Homo sapiens: one gene and its partners. The protein of the gene in region 4 purifies or fractionates together with the protein of the main gene of each other region. This does not show direct contact. Each region holds a gene or a part of one and is shown on either strand. Other genes may lie near its edges.

Region 1 (3,862 bases), on a different chromosome or scaffold from region 4:
AAATCTCATAGAGATGCAGTTCCTTTCTAGATTCATGTGCTCTTCCCCATCTCTCTCCCCAACACTGAGACACACACGCGCAAACGTACACTCACACACTCACACTTACTTATTTATATTTCTCTTGCTAAACCATTTGAGAGTTGCAGACATCATGACACTTTACTGCTAAATATTTCGGCATGTTTCCTAAGACCAAAGATGTTTTCCTACAAAACTGCAAGACAGTTTTCCTCTCAGGAAATTGAGCACCCTTGTCTAATACACAGTTGATATTCAAATTTCCCACCATATACCAACAATGTCTTTTATAGCTCTTGTTTTTTTTTCTGGGATCTAGAATTTAATAAAGGGTCACACATTGGTTTTAGTTGTGGACAGTCCTTCTTTTGAATAATTTCCCTCAATTTTCACTTATGTGATTTTTTCTTCATGAGACACTGATTGAATGTTTTCAGCAGGAAAACTTTACTGGTGATGTTGTGTCCTTTCCAGAGCATCACATCAGGAAGACAGGATGTCACTTGTCCCACTGTTGGTGATGCTAACTTAGCCTACTTGGTTAAAGTAGTGGCATTTTCTTTTTTGTAATTAATAAACTTTGGGGTTGTATTTTGAGAAGATGTGACTATCTGTTCCCCAGTAGTCTTTCACCCAGGGGTTTTAGAATCCTCTGATGATTTTTACAAAATGGTGATTTTAAAAATTCTATACTTCCTTCTTCATTTATTACTTGACATTCTGCGTGATAACTCTGAAGGCCATTGAGCAATAGTAATTATCACATAAATACATTTTGTTTTGTTCCCAAAGTGTCGAATACCCCAAAAATCATGTGTTAACTGAGGTATATTCCATAGGAATTTCAGAGATCTATTTTCATAGCAAAAAGAAACCCCTGTAGTCTTATAAAGATTGTATTTAATAAAAGATACCTCCTAGGGGAGCCCTTGTGTAAAAATAATAACAGTAATAAAAAGAAAGAAGAAAACTTTTAATATATTAAATAGCCTAAAAACCTTTTAGCAAAATGTAAGCAATCAACTATATGTATCACTGGAAATGCAGTATTGTTCAGTATTATAAACTGGAGAGGAGATAAGTCTTTTCTTGCCGAAGGATAATTTAGGACTTTTTTTGTAACCTAAAATGAATTTCAACTGTAACTTCTGACGTGTTTGATATATAGGTGCTGGCATCACGGGCATTCAACGTTTCATCTTCAGTGCCATAGTCAGATTACTAACCCTTTGGGCCTCTGTTTCTCATCTGCAAACTGAAGAGTTGGACACATTATAAAATCCTTTCAGATTCTTAATGTTGGATGATTAAAAACATTTATTATAGGAGTTGGGCTTCCTACTCCCTTTGGCTAAAGAGAGTATTGCTCTAGTTACTTGGTTTACACTCACGTGAATAAATGTAGTAATATAGATGCCAAGGTGAGTAGGAAAGAAGAAAACAAAATATGGACAAAAACCATGAAGCATCATAATAGATTATGGTAGGTCTGTTTCTCTTTCAGGACTATATGCTATGGGAGTTTCTTCTTTTGTTCCATGCAAGAAGATTTTTAAAATAGAGACCTCCCTTGACAAAGAAAATCAGAGATATCCTTATAAACTAGCAAGGGAGAAGAGTTTAATAACCGACTAGCTCACAGTTCTTTTCTGCCCAATGCCTCAACTACTTCTGGCTAGATTCTGACAGCAACTGCTCCTCTAAAAGTCATCAGAGAAGAGAGGATCAGTTTCTACCCTTAGGTACCCGAAGGGAATGTATTCCGCATTCTTTCATATTTCAGCTGCCTCTTTCACTTCTGTGCCCCAGGAAGACTAGAAAACTGGCTCTCTACTTCTTGTTAATTTCTTATTAAATTAAATAGTCAATGAAGGCATTTTGTGCCTGAGCCTTCTGGTCCCCATGAAGAATAAACTCGTGGGAGAGAGAGGAAGGGACTGGATTATTCTGCTGGGTGACAGTACACTTAGGGAAAAAGGTCAAGGAAGAAAAGTCCATCAGGCATTTTTGTTTTAATTTTTAAAATTCCTGTTTAACAATACAGGGTCTCTTGCAACGTGTGAGCTGCCTCTTGCCAAGAGTGAGTGGCAAAAGAAACTAACCCCGGAGCAGTTCTACGTCACAAGAGAAAAGGGAACGGAACCGGTAAGCTAAGCTGGTTTACAGTTTTCTGATTGCATGTGTTGGCAGTGAGGGGCCAGTTGGAATAGGTCCAGCTATGAAACCCAGCTGCCCAGCAACACTCCACAGGCCTGGTCTTCCTCTTCCATTGTGCCCTTCTCGGGGTGTTGATATCCATCGAGTTGTAGAAACCTGAAACTTTTCTCTGGACACAGCATCTCTATTCTGACTCCTAAATAACCTTCCTGTCATTTCACTTCCATGCACCGCTGTCACCTCCCCGTGGGGCCAAGTCACCATCACCTTCTCTGTGCATGGCCATTCTTGCTCCAGCCAACCCATTCTCCACACTGCAGCCAAAGAGTTCTTTGGAAAACACAGATCTGACCATATCACTCCCCAGCTCAAAACCTTTGGTGGCTGCCCAGTGCTTTCAAGGAAAAAGAAAAGTATGAGATGGCTAATAAGGTCCTAACGGCCCCTGGCTCCCACCCCTATCCTCAAATCCAGCCATCTTCCCTCTTGACACGGTACTTTGGCCACACCACCCTTGAGCTCTCACATGCCCTGGGCTCCCTTCTCTTTTAAGGCCTTTGCACCCAGCTTTCCTTCTTCTCTCCCGTCATCCCTCCCCACACTCTCCACCCATTCATTCAGACCTACCTTGTAGCTCTCGGCCCAAATCTCACTTTCTCTGGCAAACCTTCTCCTAGCCCCCAGCTAGGGTTGCTTCTAGCAGAACTCTTCCTTCATAGCATTTGCCATCACTGCTGTAACCCCTGGCACCTAACGTGGTGGCTGGCCTAGTAGGCATCCGAAAAATCAACTTTTGTGAATGTTGAATGACTGCCGGGTAAGAGGTGGAAACATTATTTAAACTGCATTTGGCAATCTCAGCTTTCATTCATTTTCTGAGAGAACAACCCTCAGTGGTTCTTCATTATAACACCACTTTTTACAGTGCTACATTTATCTCTCTCTCTCTGTGTGTCTGTGTGTGTGTGTGTGTGTGTGTGTGTGTGTATACAAGTTTCTGGGGTACTTGAGAAAATTTGTTACACATATATAATGCATAGTAATCGAGTCAGGGTATTTAGGGTGTCTGTCACCCGAATACAATACATTTTTGTTAAGTGTCATCCTCCTACTCTGCCATCAAACACTGAGTGTATTCCTTTTCTCTTACTGTATGTTTGTGGACTTTAAGCCACTCCTCTTCATCCTCCCCCTACCCCCTGCTTTCCAGGGTAGGAAACCCCCTTTCCAGGCTCTGTTATCCATTTTTCCACTCTCTACCTCCATGTGTTCAAATTCTTTAGCTCTCACATATAAATGAGAACATAGTGCCGCGTTGCTTAACAAGTGGTCTGTCTTAGACCCAAATATAGCTACTGGAATGTAGCTTTTTTGAATTGAACTTTGTTATTAGATATTTTTACTAGTGAAGCAGATCCCACAGAGTGGACCCCAGCCCTGTGGCTTCAAACATAGTAGAGTATGAATGTTTTTTCCTTTGTCAGCACCTGCAAAACTCATGTCACTACCCACATGCACTGCCATTGTAATCATGGTCTCACCCTCAGTTTTTCCAATGCTAAAGTCATCAGAAGGGCCAGCACATTCCAATAAAGTCCCCTGAAATGCTGGTATTTTTGAAAACTTCCTGTAGGCGGGATTTTACTAAAGCCCTTGTTGGGAAAGAGACTACATTAGCCATTTG
Region 2 (3,862 bases), on a different chromosome or scaffold from region 4:
TCTTCAGAGGCCTGGGACCCAAAATCACAGCCACAGAGGCCTGTCTAGCTGAGCTCAATAGGCACGGGGTCTGCAAGAAGACATGACTGCTGTGGGGATTGGTAGTGACTGCGTGAAATGCCCTTCTCTCTGTGTGGCCTCTGGCTTTGGACTTGCTGGAGCCAGAGGTGGGGGCAAGTCTCCTTCTTTCATCTAGCCAGCAGTAATGATGCCTGCCCTGGGGATCTCAGGCTGCTGAAAAGCATAAGACTCAACCACTTTCCCTTAGGGAGACAGCCTACACCAAAGGGGTCAGACTCCACGAGAGATCTGAATAATGACAAAGACTGTAAAAAGAAATCCAGTTAGATACCACTGGAATTCCTTTATAGACTGCATATTACTTTCAAATATATACTACTGCACTTGTAAAAGTACACAGTTGATCTAATCACGCTCCTGCTCAAAATCCTCGACAGGTTCTCTGAGGCTTTCAGGATATTAGATATTAGTGCCTCTGGGGAGCTCCCCAGCCCCCTGTGCTCTCAGAGCCCTTGTACTTGTGCCCACCACAGCTCTTATCACAAGGGGACATGATGTCTCTTTGGCTGCCTCCCTCCCATCGGACTGGGGCAACTTGGGAGCAGGGGCCGGGTGTCCCTCATCAGAGTCCCCATGGACCTGGCTTAGAGAAAGTGGTGGGTGAACGTCTATGGAATGCACGAGCACGAACAAATGAAGAAAAGCAATACACTGCCTTAGAAAGAACCAACACTTAAGAATGAACTGGGAATGCAGAGCACTGTGAGCTCAGACTATTTATTTCATGTCTTTATTTTTCAATTTTTGACTCTGTGCAAAGGTACCAATGATAGGTGCCTGACCTTAGTTTAACTGGAATGTTTTTAAGATTTTTCTTGTGCAAATATTAAGTAGGGAGGCTGTTTTATTAAAGATGCTCATTCAGAATGAACCCACCAACAATGAATGAACTAAAGAACCCCCAAGGTTTTGTTCATAGGCATTCATTAGCTTTTCCCTGCTATACACACATGGAGCTCAGGCTACAACTGGCTGGGCAAGCCCTTTCTTCCCCAAGAGCTCACAAAGAGAGCCATCTGTCCAGTTCCAGGTGGAATCATCTCACGCCTGTTTTCCTGGAGCGAGAATCAATGAGGCTTCCCTGAGCCTCTCCTCCTCCTGGGGTTTCCATGGGAATCCTCCCACGCGTGACTGAGCCAGGGGCCCCCAAGGTGCAAGCTGGGCTGTCAGCCAGCAAGGAGAGCAGCAAATGGGATGAAGGAGGTTTGCTAGGCTGTGACCAGGGCAGCAAGCTCTGCAAGGTCATTTGAAAGAGACATACCACTGAGACAGCAAGGCCACGTGCAGTCCGGGCCAGCCCGGTCACCACAGCTGCCCCTGAGCCCAGAGGCCTGCCCCAGGCACATGTGGAGGTTGTTTGCAGGGCAGCTGGATTCCCTGAGGCCCAGCATGTCTGGGCTGGGTCAAAGCATGAAGGGAGAAGATGGGAAGGGTACCATTTAATGAAGCCCTCTGGGGAAAACGATGATGAAAACATGATAAGGTTTGCGTCCAATCCCTCATTTACCTCCCAAGATGAACCTTCTCCACTTGGTATAACTGGTTGTCTGGAAACAGAATGCCTAAAAGAAAAGCAGAACTATTCATGCCTCTGGCTTGAGCCAGGTCATAATAGGGACCTGCTGGGATTTCTGAAGATCCCTCTGTTAAGCCTACAGTATCTCTGGGGGCATTTTTGAGATACTAAGGAGGAAAGGAGAGAGGATGAGAGGAAGAGAGGAGAAAGGGAGCAGGATCGGGGAGGGAGCTGCTCCAGCCCCAGGAATCTGTACAACTTGCACATTTCATAGAATGCAGATAACAGGTAGATGTCTCCTGAAGGTAGATAACAGGTAGAATGTCTCTGTGGCCAGTAAACCGGGCCAAGGCCCACTCACTTCTGGAGAAAGCAGAGCTCCAGTTCACCATACATGACATTTCACAACATTAAAGGTCAGATGGATGACTTTGGCACTGCTCCAGCGTCTCCCACCACACATACCAGCACATTGAAGTGTAGAGCTTACCACAGCAGCTTTCCTGCCTCCTCCTGGCTCCAATGTCTTCCTGCCTACCCCATCAATGGGGCACCCCCAAGTCCATTGCTTCAACTTCAGTTTCCGCTTTTCACTCTCTCTCTCCATGCATCTTCTCTTATGACCTGCATCTCCAGCCCCGTGCAGACACTCTCAAGCCGGGTCTCCAGTGCTGCCTTCTCTCCTCAGCACAAGACCTACCTACTAGAAGCCCCTGGTCAGCCCTGCCTGGGTGTTGTTTCAAATGACCTTGTAAGGCCAGCTGACCTCTTTCCATCATAAGCCTCCTACCATGGGCACACCCACACTCTCAGCCCTGCGGGACATCTGTGGTCCATGTGCACCTCGGAATCTGCAGGTCCTAGGCTGAGCCTGGCCTCTTCCCTCTCTCACATGCCAGGTTCCTCTGCATGTCACTGTTCCTGCCATGGATCCCGTCTCTTGGTCCCCACCACTCAACCCCGTCAGCTTTCCCCTAGTTCAGAACTTGCCTGGATTACTCCACTGGTCTCTTAGCAGGCTTCCCTGACTCCACTGTTTGCCCGCCAACCCACTCTCCATGCTGCCAACAGGTAAGTTGGACCAAGACACCCACCAATCTCTTCATTCAACCCTCCAGGCAGCTTCTCCAGAGAGAAGCTGCACCTCTTTGCTTGGCACCCAGGGGCCCTCCAGGCTGCTCTTATTTCTTCCACACTGTCTGTCATCACGGCCCACCTCAGACCAGTCATGCCAGACTCTCCTCGTCAGCACATCCTGGGACTCTTCCCATCTTCTCTGACCTGGCTGACATTCTCTCACTCCCCTGCCCCTTCTAGCAGAAGCAGAACTGGGCACCCCTCCGTGGCAGCCCCTCAGCCCACTACATCCTCTTCCCTCCGCCCCATTATGTCCTCTTGCCTACGTCCCACTGCACCCTCTGCCCTCCAACCCACTTTGTCTTCATCTTAGCTGTTGATTCCTGCTGCTATCTCTTGCACCACATCTGCATTTCTTAATGGAGCCAGTGCCCAACCAGCCTTTATCTCCAATACTCGTACACAGCCTTGTACCTGTTACCTCTGGCTGCATTAAGACGTGCTTGTCAGACTGAAGAAGGACTAGCCACTCTATACCTCCTGCATGGTTTGCATTTTTTTTTTTTTTTTGAGACGGAGTCTCGCTCTGTTGCCCAGGCTGGAGTGCAGTGGTGCCATCTCGGCTCACTGCAAGCTCTGCGTCCCAGGTTCATGCCATTCTCCTGCCTCAGCCTCCCCAGCAGCTGGGACTACAGGCGCAAGCCGCCACGCCGGGCTAATTTTTTGTATTTTTAGTAGAGACGGGGTTTCACTGTGTTAGCCAGGATAGTCTCGATCTCCTGACCTTGCGATCCCCCCGCCTCGGCCTCCCAAAGTGCTGGGATTACGGGCATGAACCACCACACGTATACATTTTAAATGGAGTAAGTTCTGAACTCAATGTGTGAAGCAAAAATCACATGCAATCAACACTGCTTAGGAAAGTTCTTCTAAAGTTCCACACAAAGTTCATGATAACTGGTTTGAGGTATACCACCTCTTTCCCAAAGGGCACACCACCCACAACTGTTTTTCCTATAGCCTCAAAACAAATCCCTATTTCTTGAACTGATCAGCAGCAAATAAATTAGTTGGCTTATGTAGGAACCATGTTTTATTAAAAACGTGTTGCTGGTTTAAAAATTTTTTATAGTTGATCTTTTCTTACCACAGATGGTCATGTTCACATAAATCAAGAGTACATACTAT
Region 3 (3,862 bases), on a different chromosome or scaffold from region 4:
ACTTCAAATTTACTAGACAGTGAAATATAAATGAGATGGTATGAAATCACTCTGAAAGTATTAGGGTTGGATATATTATGTAAGTTTCTATAATTAGAAAGCATTAAGTCCCAAATCGTACCAATAGTTTTAATCATATCTAAATGGATACTCACATACTAAATGTGATTAAATATAAAATGCATAACGAAATGTCACATCCTTTCCTGATAGAATACTAATAAGGCATAGTATTTCATGTGCAGGAAGATACAGGAAAACACACAAGTAAGAGTTTGTTTTGCATATATAAATTGTTATGCCTTTGAGATTCTTTTCTTCCTGATGGTAGGATTTGGAAACCATTGGACTAGATGATGTCTAAATTTCCTTTCAGTTCTAAAAATTACTAAATATCTTGCCCTTATAGCTTAGATACTGTCTCCAATAGGTTAAAGGCTCAGAGATGATAACACTTTCTGTTTAAAAGTTTTTAGAAACTTACTTTTGAATATAATGAAAATTAACTTTGAGGCATGCACTGTTTTGAAATCTAAATGCCTCTAAATCTACTTCAGACAACCCTTGCAGTTCTTGTTTCAAGGGAGGCAGAACCGTGTCTGTTATGCAGAGATCTTATATTAAACTTGCTGGGAAAATTGCCAGTGTGAATAAAGAAGTGAATATTCCTGCCAGGTAGGTAGGTATTTTATGATCTTTCTGTTGGCTGAAAGTGGTTGACTAATAAAGAGACAATGAAACACACTTAACTATTTGTATTTTTATGTTATCTTTCGAGAAAGTTTGTTTTCTATATATGAGTTAGTTTCTGCAGTCCCTTATGCATTTTTTAAGACCTGGAAATCCGTCCATTATAGTCGAAGAAGGCAACCCCAAGTGTTAACTGAATTAAATCCTAGCAAGTTCCTTGATTGTTATTCCTTAGAAACATTGTGTTTAAAGGTCTCAAGTTGTAAACATTCATGGTACTACTTTGTTATCTGTTAGGTCCATTTCTTTTCCTTTTTTTCTTTTAGATCTTTAGAATTTCAAACATGTACAAAAATAGATTAAGTAATGAATAAACCCCTGTGTATTCATCATCTAGTTTCAGCTACACCCTTGCTACTTATTAATTTAAAAATAACCTAAAAATTACATTGCAAACTAGAATTTTCTAGGACCTGAAATGTAGTCAGTAGGGGTTAGTTTATATGAGTAAAAGATAATATTTGGTTCACATGTAATCATGTTGAAATTACTTGAAAAATAAAGCTCTTGGCCGGACGCGGTGGCTCACTCCTGTAATCCCAGCACTTTGGGAGGCTGCGGTGGGCGGATCACGAGGTCAGGAGATCGAGACCATCCTGGCTAACACGGTGAAACCCCATCTCTACCAAAAATACAAAAAATCAGCCAGGGGTGGTCGCCGGCACCTGTAGTCCCAGCTACTCGGGGCTGAGGCAGGAGAATGGCGTGAACCCGGGAGCCGAGAACATGCCACTGCACTCCAGCCTGGGTGACAGGGCCAGACTCCGTCTCAAAAAAAAAAAGCTCTTTAGAAAAAGGCTTTCAAACTTTTTTGTCTGTGACCCAGATAGAGAAGTAGTTTTTGACTAATAGAAATTTATAACAAAATTACACAAATATGTAATATCTTGTGAAACATTACCTATTATTAATCTGTGTGAGGTAGTTAAGAGAACCATAGTGACCTTCTAAATTGAATTCACAATTCATGGGCCGTGAAACTCAGTTTGAAAAACAGCATTTTCAGGTATGGAGTAGTTTGGGGCTTTTGTTTATTTTTTACATGCCATGTTAGTCTGGAATAATTATGATTTTTGTTAACACAAGGATTTTCACTAGACATTTATCAGTAATATCAGCATATACTGTTATTAGTCATTATGAGTAAAGAAAATAAAACATTTTGGATTTATACATTAGCCATTATATATAGCGATTTTTTTTCCTTTTAGAACTTTAGAAAAAGGGGAAGCCACAGTAATTTGAATATAATCAAGACATAACTTTTCCAGTATATTCAGTTGACCTTCCTTTTAAATTAGACCTTGTGTTCCTTATTCCTGAGCCTTTGAGTTTGCAGGGCTGGGAGTACTAATGTTTATTCTAAGCCAAATGCTTTACTTGGTTGCTGTAGTCTGAGGCACATTTCTGTTGAGTACAGATTGACTTGAATACTGGCCAAGGGAAGAGAGAGAGAGGGTAAGCAGAACCATCACTAAAGAATCATCTGCCGTTCATGTTTAAGATCCTAGAGTAGTGGGATTATTTCCTAGTTTTTAGACACTGCTTCCTGGAGGAAAAAAAGGCAACAAGATGTCCTCCTTTGTTGGCAACTATCTGTGAAAAACTTCTAAATTCATAGATTGAAGGAATGTGTTAAATTTAACTTGGGATTTTTTTGATTATACGAGTTTAGCAGGTTTGGGAATCATTGCCGAACAACTGGAAAAAAATAGCACAAGGAGCTCCAGCATTGAAATTATATTCATTAATGCTGAATCTCAAATCGTGCATCAAGGGAGATGAAATAAATGGCCTTAATGCAAACCAGGAAACTGCTACCTGGAAAAAAGCAAGTATAAAGAGGTTTCAAATAGCTTGCAGTGAACTGTCATTGAATTACCCTTACACAAATAACATAGTGATCACGTATCAAAAGTATGGTGCTAACCTAACAGCATTACTGTTTTCTACTAGGATTGAACTCCAAATAAGAATACTTTCTAACCACATTTTGGAAGAGACATAGAATCTATGTTGATGGTAGCTTAAGATTTAGGAGAAAAGCCTGAAGGAGCTAAACTTAGGAACAGGGAGCACTAGGGGGATGTGATTATCTATTAATACTTTCAAGGTAGCAGTGTAAATGAAGTAAGGGAATTAGGCAGTCTCCAAAGATGGATGGGCTGTATCAAAGAGCAATGGCCTAGAGCACAGGGAAGAAAGCATAGGTTTAGTATTAAGATGATTTTAATGAAACTAGCGGAAGAATAGAGTTATTTGCACTCATCGTCAGAACCATTATAAGTAGGACAAAGAGCTGGTTGAGAGGGTACTCAAAAACAGAAATGATCTCTTTCTTACATAGTACTGTGCTTGTTTAGAAGCTCAATGAGAGAAAAATATGGAAATGAATATGAAATGAAATGGACTTTTCAAAAGTTAGTGTGTTTTTCTGTTGTTTGTTTTGTTTTGAAACAGGGTCTCACTCTGTTGCCTAGGCTGGAATGCAGTGGCGTGATCATTACTCACTGCAGCATCAACCTTCCAGGCTCAGGTGATCCTCCTGCCTCAGCTTTCCAAGTAGCTGGGACCACAGGCGCATACCTCCATGCCTGGCTAATTTTTGAATTTTTTGTGGAGATGAGGTCTCCCTATGTTGCCCAGGCTGGTCTCAAACTCCTGGACTAAAGTGATCCTCCTGCCTGTGCCTCCCAAAGTGCTGGGATTACAGGCATGAGCCACAGCCCCCCTGCCAGCCAGAAGTTTTTAAAGATCAGAAATTAGTGTTTCTAGCTCTAAACTTCTATGATTATGAATCCAAGTAAAATGGTAGATTAACTTTGGAATCCATTAAGGTAGCTTTTAGGACTTGCCTGTGATATTAGAACAGAATTTTGCTTACTATAACCTTCAGAAGCAACTTCTTTTTGTTATCAAAAAGCTAAACTATGAAATCCTTCCAATACGTGTTGAATACAAAGAAGCCTAGATAATAAAGAGCCCGTTAGACTTTATATGAAACCTAGTAAAAGTATAACCTTTGGCCATTAGAAATTAAGCTTTTTCTTTTATATGGTAAATGTATGCTATTAAAAACCTGGAAAAGGACACTTTCATCCTAACTCCTAAG
Region 4 (4,225 bases):
ACAGGGGTGGAGGGAAGAGGGAGCCACACGGACTCCCATGCTTTTTTATTTTGGTCTGGGAACCCGGGAGGGTGGATGCGGGTATGAGTCACTGAACCAAAGGGCACAGTAGGAGCGGGCAGCGAGAGGTCATTGGAGGATACAAGGTTAAGTCCCACTTTGGACCTGGGAGACAGGCAAGTGGAGACATCAGCACTGGACAGGTCCTGGAGATGAAAATTTTGGAAGGTCTCGCCTCTCAGAGAACCAGGAAGAACAATACTACTTAATAATGGACCACACAAGACCTGCCAGCAAAAGACAGTGCAAGGAGGAAAACCAAGAGCGTGTGGGGTCCAGGAAGCTGAGGTATGTCTCGGGTCCAGTAAAACAGGGACTGGAGTGGCTGTAATGATCCCATCTTCTTTCCACTGAACAGGCAAGACCCCCGGGAGAGGCAATCTTCCAGCTCCTCCTCCATGTTAGCTTGTACATGAGCCCTCCAAGCTTGGACAATGACAGCTACAGAGCCAAGCAGGAGGAGGGCAGGGACCCTGGAAAAACAGGAGGAAGCAACTCGAGCCAACAAGATATCACACCTGAACACCAAAAAACAGCTGCCAAGAGAAAACTGACCAAGCCCCACACGCCACACAGGAAATGCCTGGACAAATGGTGCCTCTAACCCTTGGCTTCACAGGCTTATGCTGTTGCACCCAGACCTGTCACTGTCCCAAGCACTCAGCCAGACATGTAACAAAGGCATTTTTATGTATTCTTTTTGGCAGCCCTTTGAGGAAGTGTCAGCATCTCCAAATGGCCTTGCCTGGCAAAATGTGCCGGTTTATACAAGGTGTTCAATATACAGGCACTAAATTACCTGACTGGACAAATAAGGCATCAACCTCAAAAAGAACTCAGCAAGGGTCACCCAGTTCACAAGTGCTGGATTCAGGATTCAGTCTCAAATTCAGCTGGCAACTCGGCAGCACCTCAGAGAAAACAGGGGACCCCAGGACTGCTTCCCCCACCTCCTGCCAGCTCCCAGCTGTGAGTTCCATTTCTTCTCTCTCCTCAATACACTCATGTACCCTCAAGGATCCCTGGAGCCCCTCCCTATTCCCCAAGAAATCTCACTAGAATGGGGGTCCTAACCTAGGCCCACAGATAGATTTCAGGATGGCCATAAATCCCCTTTAAACACTACAAGCATTTTTCCTGGGAAAAGTAACCATAGCACTTTTCGGATTTCATTTTCTTATTCTTCTCAAGGAGAATCACTACCTGGGCTTAAAGGGAGGAGGGGATGTGATTTGCCCTTTACCCCCATACCTGACACAGTGCTTAGACTCACAGGTGATTGACAAAGGCTGACTGGATGCTGAATGACCCAAAGGATAAATGGTTAGGGAGAAATAGATACTTCCCGACCACCCTATCCCTTTCTGAAGGAAAAGAGTGGCTCTTAGAAAGTAAGTCCCTTAAGGACTGGGTGATTCCAACACTTTTTTGTGGCGTGATCTTGGCTCACCGCAACCTCCATCACCTGGGCTCAAGCGATCCTCCCACCTCAGCCTCCCAAGTAGCTGGGACTATAGGTGCGCACCACCAAACCCACCTAATTTTTGTATTTGGCAGAGATGCGGTTTCCCCAGGTTAGTCTTGTCTCAAAGCTGGTCTCCAACTCCCAACCTCAGGCAATCTGCCCACCTCGGCCTCCCAAAGTGCTGGGATTACAGGCGTGAGCCACCGCGCCCAGCCAACAATTTTTTTAAGAAACAGTGTTTCTTTAAGAAACTTGGCTGGGCACAGTAGCTCACGCCTGTAATCCCAGCACTTTGGCAGGCCGAGGTGGGCAGATCGCCTGAGGTTGGGAGTTCGAGACCAGCCTGACCAACACGGAGAAACCCTGTCTCTATTAAAAATACAAAATTAGCTGGGCGTGGTGGCACATGCCTGTAATCCCAGCTACTCGGAAGGCTGAGGCAGAATTGCTTGAACTCGGGAGATGGTGTTTGCAGTAAGCCAAGATCACATCGTTGCACTCCAGCCTGGGCAACAAGAGGGAAACTCCATCTCAAAAAATAAATAAATAAAAACAAAAAATAAATAAATAAATTTTTAAAAGGCCTAGATTTTAAGTGATATTAAGGAATTACTAATGTTGTTAGGTATGATACTGGCATCGTGGTTATGTTCAGAATGTCCTTATTTTCTTTTTTTTTTTTTTTTGGTTGAGACAAGACAGGGTCGCACTCTGTCACCAAGGCTGGGTGCACTAGTGTCATCTCAGCTCACTGCAACCTCAACCTCCTGAGCTCAAAGGATCCTCCTGCTTCAGCTTCCCAAGTAGCTGGGACTACAAGTATGTGCCACCACATGCCTGGCTAATTTTTTTTTTTTTTTCTTTTGTAGAGACAGGGTCTCCCTATGTTGCCCAGGCTGGTCTGGAACTCCTGGGCTCAAGTAATCCTTCCAACTCCCAAAGTGCTCAGATTACAGGTGTGAGCCATGGCACCCAGCCAGAATGTCCTTATTTTTCTTAGAGGTACACACAGAAGAATTTAGGTTTGAAATGACAAGAAATCAGAGATTTACTTTAAAATCTTAGAGCCACAAAAAAAGGAGGAGGGAGATAAGCAAAGCAGGTGTTGAAAAATGTTAATCATTGCTCAATCTGGGAGATGGGCACAGGGGTTCATATTATTCCCCATTTTTGAATTTTTGAAAACTTACATAGTTAAAAAACAGCTCATTTGTACAATGGTTGCAAAATTTACCATACATAGTTTTAACGGTCATTGCCTAAACAGTCACAAGATTTGCTTTCCTTTTTTTTTTTTTTTTGTTTGGTTGGTTTTTTTTGAGACGGAGTCTCACTGTCACCCAGGCTGGAGTGCAGTGGTGCAATCTCGACTCACTACAACCTCTGCCTCCTGGGTTCAAGTGATTCTCCTGCCTCAGCCTCCCAAGTAGCTGGGACTACAGACGCGCGCCAACACACCTGGCTTATTTTTTATATTTTTAGTAGAGACGGGGTTTCACCATATTGGCCAGGCTGGTCTCAAACTCCTGACCTCGTGATCCGCCCGTCGCGGCCTCCCAAAGTGCTGGGATTACAGGCATGACCCACCGCGCCCGGCCCAAGATCTGCTTTCTTAAAAATAAGAATCCATAGCCCCTGCTACTTAGAACAGCAAAGTTTTCAGGAAAATTGAGCAATATCCATAAGGCTCCCTCACCCATCACTCCAACCCCTCCCCAACCTTCAGGATGTACACAGAGAACCAGGCACCCAGTACCATAAAAAGTGAAGGTGTACATCAATTATAACAAATGTACCACACTAATGCAAGATGGTAATACAGTCACGCACCATAACGATGTTTCAGTCAATGACACACTGCATATACAATGGTCCCTTAAGATTATAATGGAACAGGAACTCATAGCTGAAGAAGAGGCAAGAGAAAAGGTAGCCACAGAAAGAAAAGAACATCCAAGAAAATTCACAGTGAAGGGTTCAGCAGCTTTTACAGACCTCAAGTTCCTTAAAAAGTCTGAAACATGAACTCCAACGCCAAAAGGTTTTCATTACTAGAGAAGAATGTTTATGGTACATTATCTGTTTACAAGCAAACCTATGACAAAAAAAAAGAAACCAAGCAAACCACAATGGACATATTTCTGATAAGAGTGACACCTCAAGAGCCTCAGAGAGGTCCTTCAGAAGATATCCAGAAGAAAGCACTGTTATCGCAGATGACAGTTCCATGCATATGACTGCCCCCTAAAGACCTTCTAATGGGACATGGTGTGAAGGCAGAAGACAGTGATATCAATTACCTGACCCGACCTTATGTAGGCCTGGGCTAGTAGGTGTTTGTGTCTTCATTTTTAACAAAAGTTAAAAAAAAAAATTTTTTTTAAGGTAGGGCACTGTGGCTCACGCCTGTAATCCCAGCACTCTGGGAGGCCAAGGCGGGCGTATCATGAGGTCAGGAGTTCGAGACCAGTCTGGCCAACATGGTGAAACCCCATCTCTACCAAAGATACAAAAAATTAGCCGGGCGTGGTGGTGCACACCTGTAATTTTTTTTAATAGAAAAAAGCTGCCTGTAATCCCAGCATGTTGCAAGGCCAAGGAGGGCAGATCACGAGGTTAGGAGATCGAGACCATCTTGGCTAACACAGTGAAACCCCATCTCTACTAAAAATCCAAAAAATTAGCCAGGCGTGGTGGCAG

The links. Proteins that work in one complex are often made in the same cells at the same time.
Region 1: the proteins of HDHD5 (region 4) and MSRB2 purify together in Homo sapiens (affinity purification with mass spectrometry; one large-scale study listed by BioGRID and IntAct). This does not show direct contact.
Region 2: the proteins of HDHD5 (region 4) and SPSB4 purify together in Homo sapiens (co-immunoprecipitation; one large-scale study listed by IntAct). This does not show direct contact.
Region 3: the proteins of HDHD5 (region 4) and NPTN purify together in Homo sapiens (co-immunoprecipitation; one large-scale study listed by IntAct). This does not show direct contact.

What each region holds. Positions count from the first base shown.
Region 1 is NC_000010.11:23,102,079-23,105,940, forward strand, and holds part of MSRB2 (methionine-R-sulfoxide reductase B2, mitochondrial precursor), read left to right. Parts: intron 1-2,065; coding exon 2,066-2,166; intron 2,167-3,862. UniProt on the Homo sapiens protein: Methionine-sulfoxide reductase that specifically reduces methionine (R)-sulfoxide back to methionine.
Region 2 is NC_000003.12:141,054,347-141,058,208, reverse strand, and holds part of SPSB4 (SPRY domain-containing SOCS box protein 4), read right to left. Parts: intron 1-3,862. UniProt on the Homo sapiens protein: Substrate recognition component of a SCF-like ECS (Elongin BC-CUL2/5-SOCS-box protein) E3 ubiquitin-protein ligase complex which mediates the ubiquitination and subsequent proteasomal degradation of target proteins.
Region 3 is NC_000015.10:73,623,028-73,626,889, reverse strand, and holds part of NPTN (neuroplastin isoform b precursor), read left to right. Parts: intron 1-3,862. UniProt on the Homo sapiens protein: Probable homophilic and heterophilic cell adhesion molecule involved in long term potentiation at hippocampal excitatory synapses through activation of p38MAPK. May also regulate neurite outgrowth by activating the FGFR1 signaling pathway.
Region 4 is NC_000022.11:17,152,422-17,156,646, forward strand, and holds part of HDHD5 (haloacid dehalogenase-like hydrolase domain-containing 5 isoform 2 precursor), read right to left. Parts: intron 1-4,225.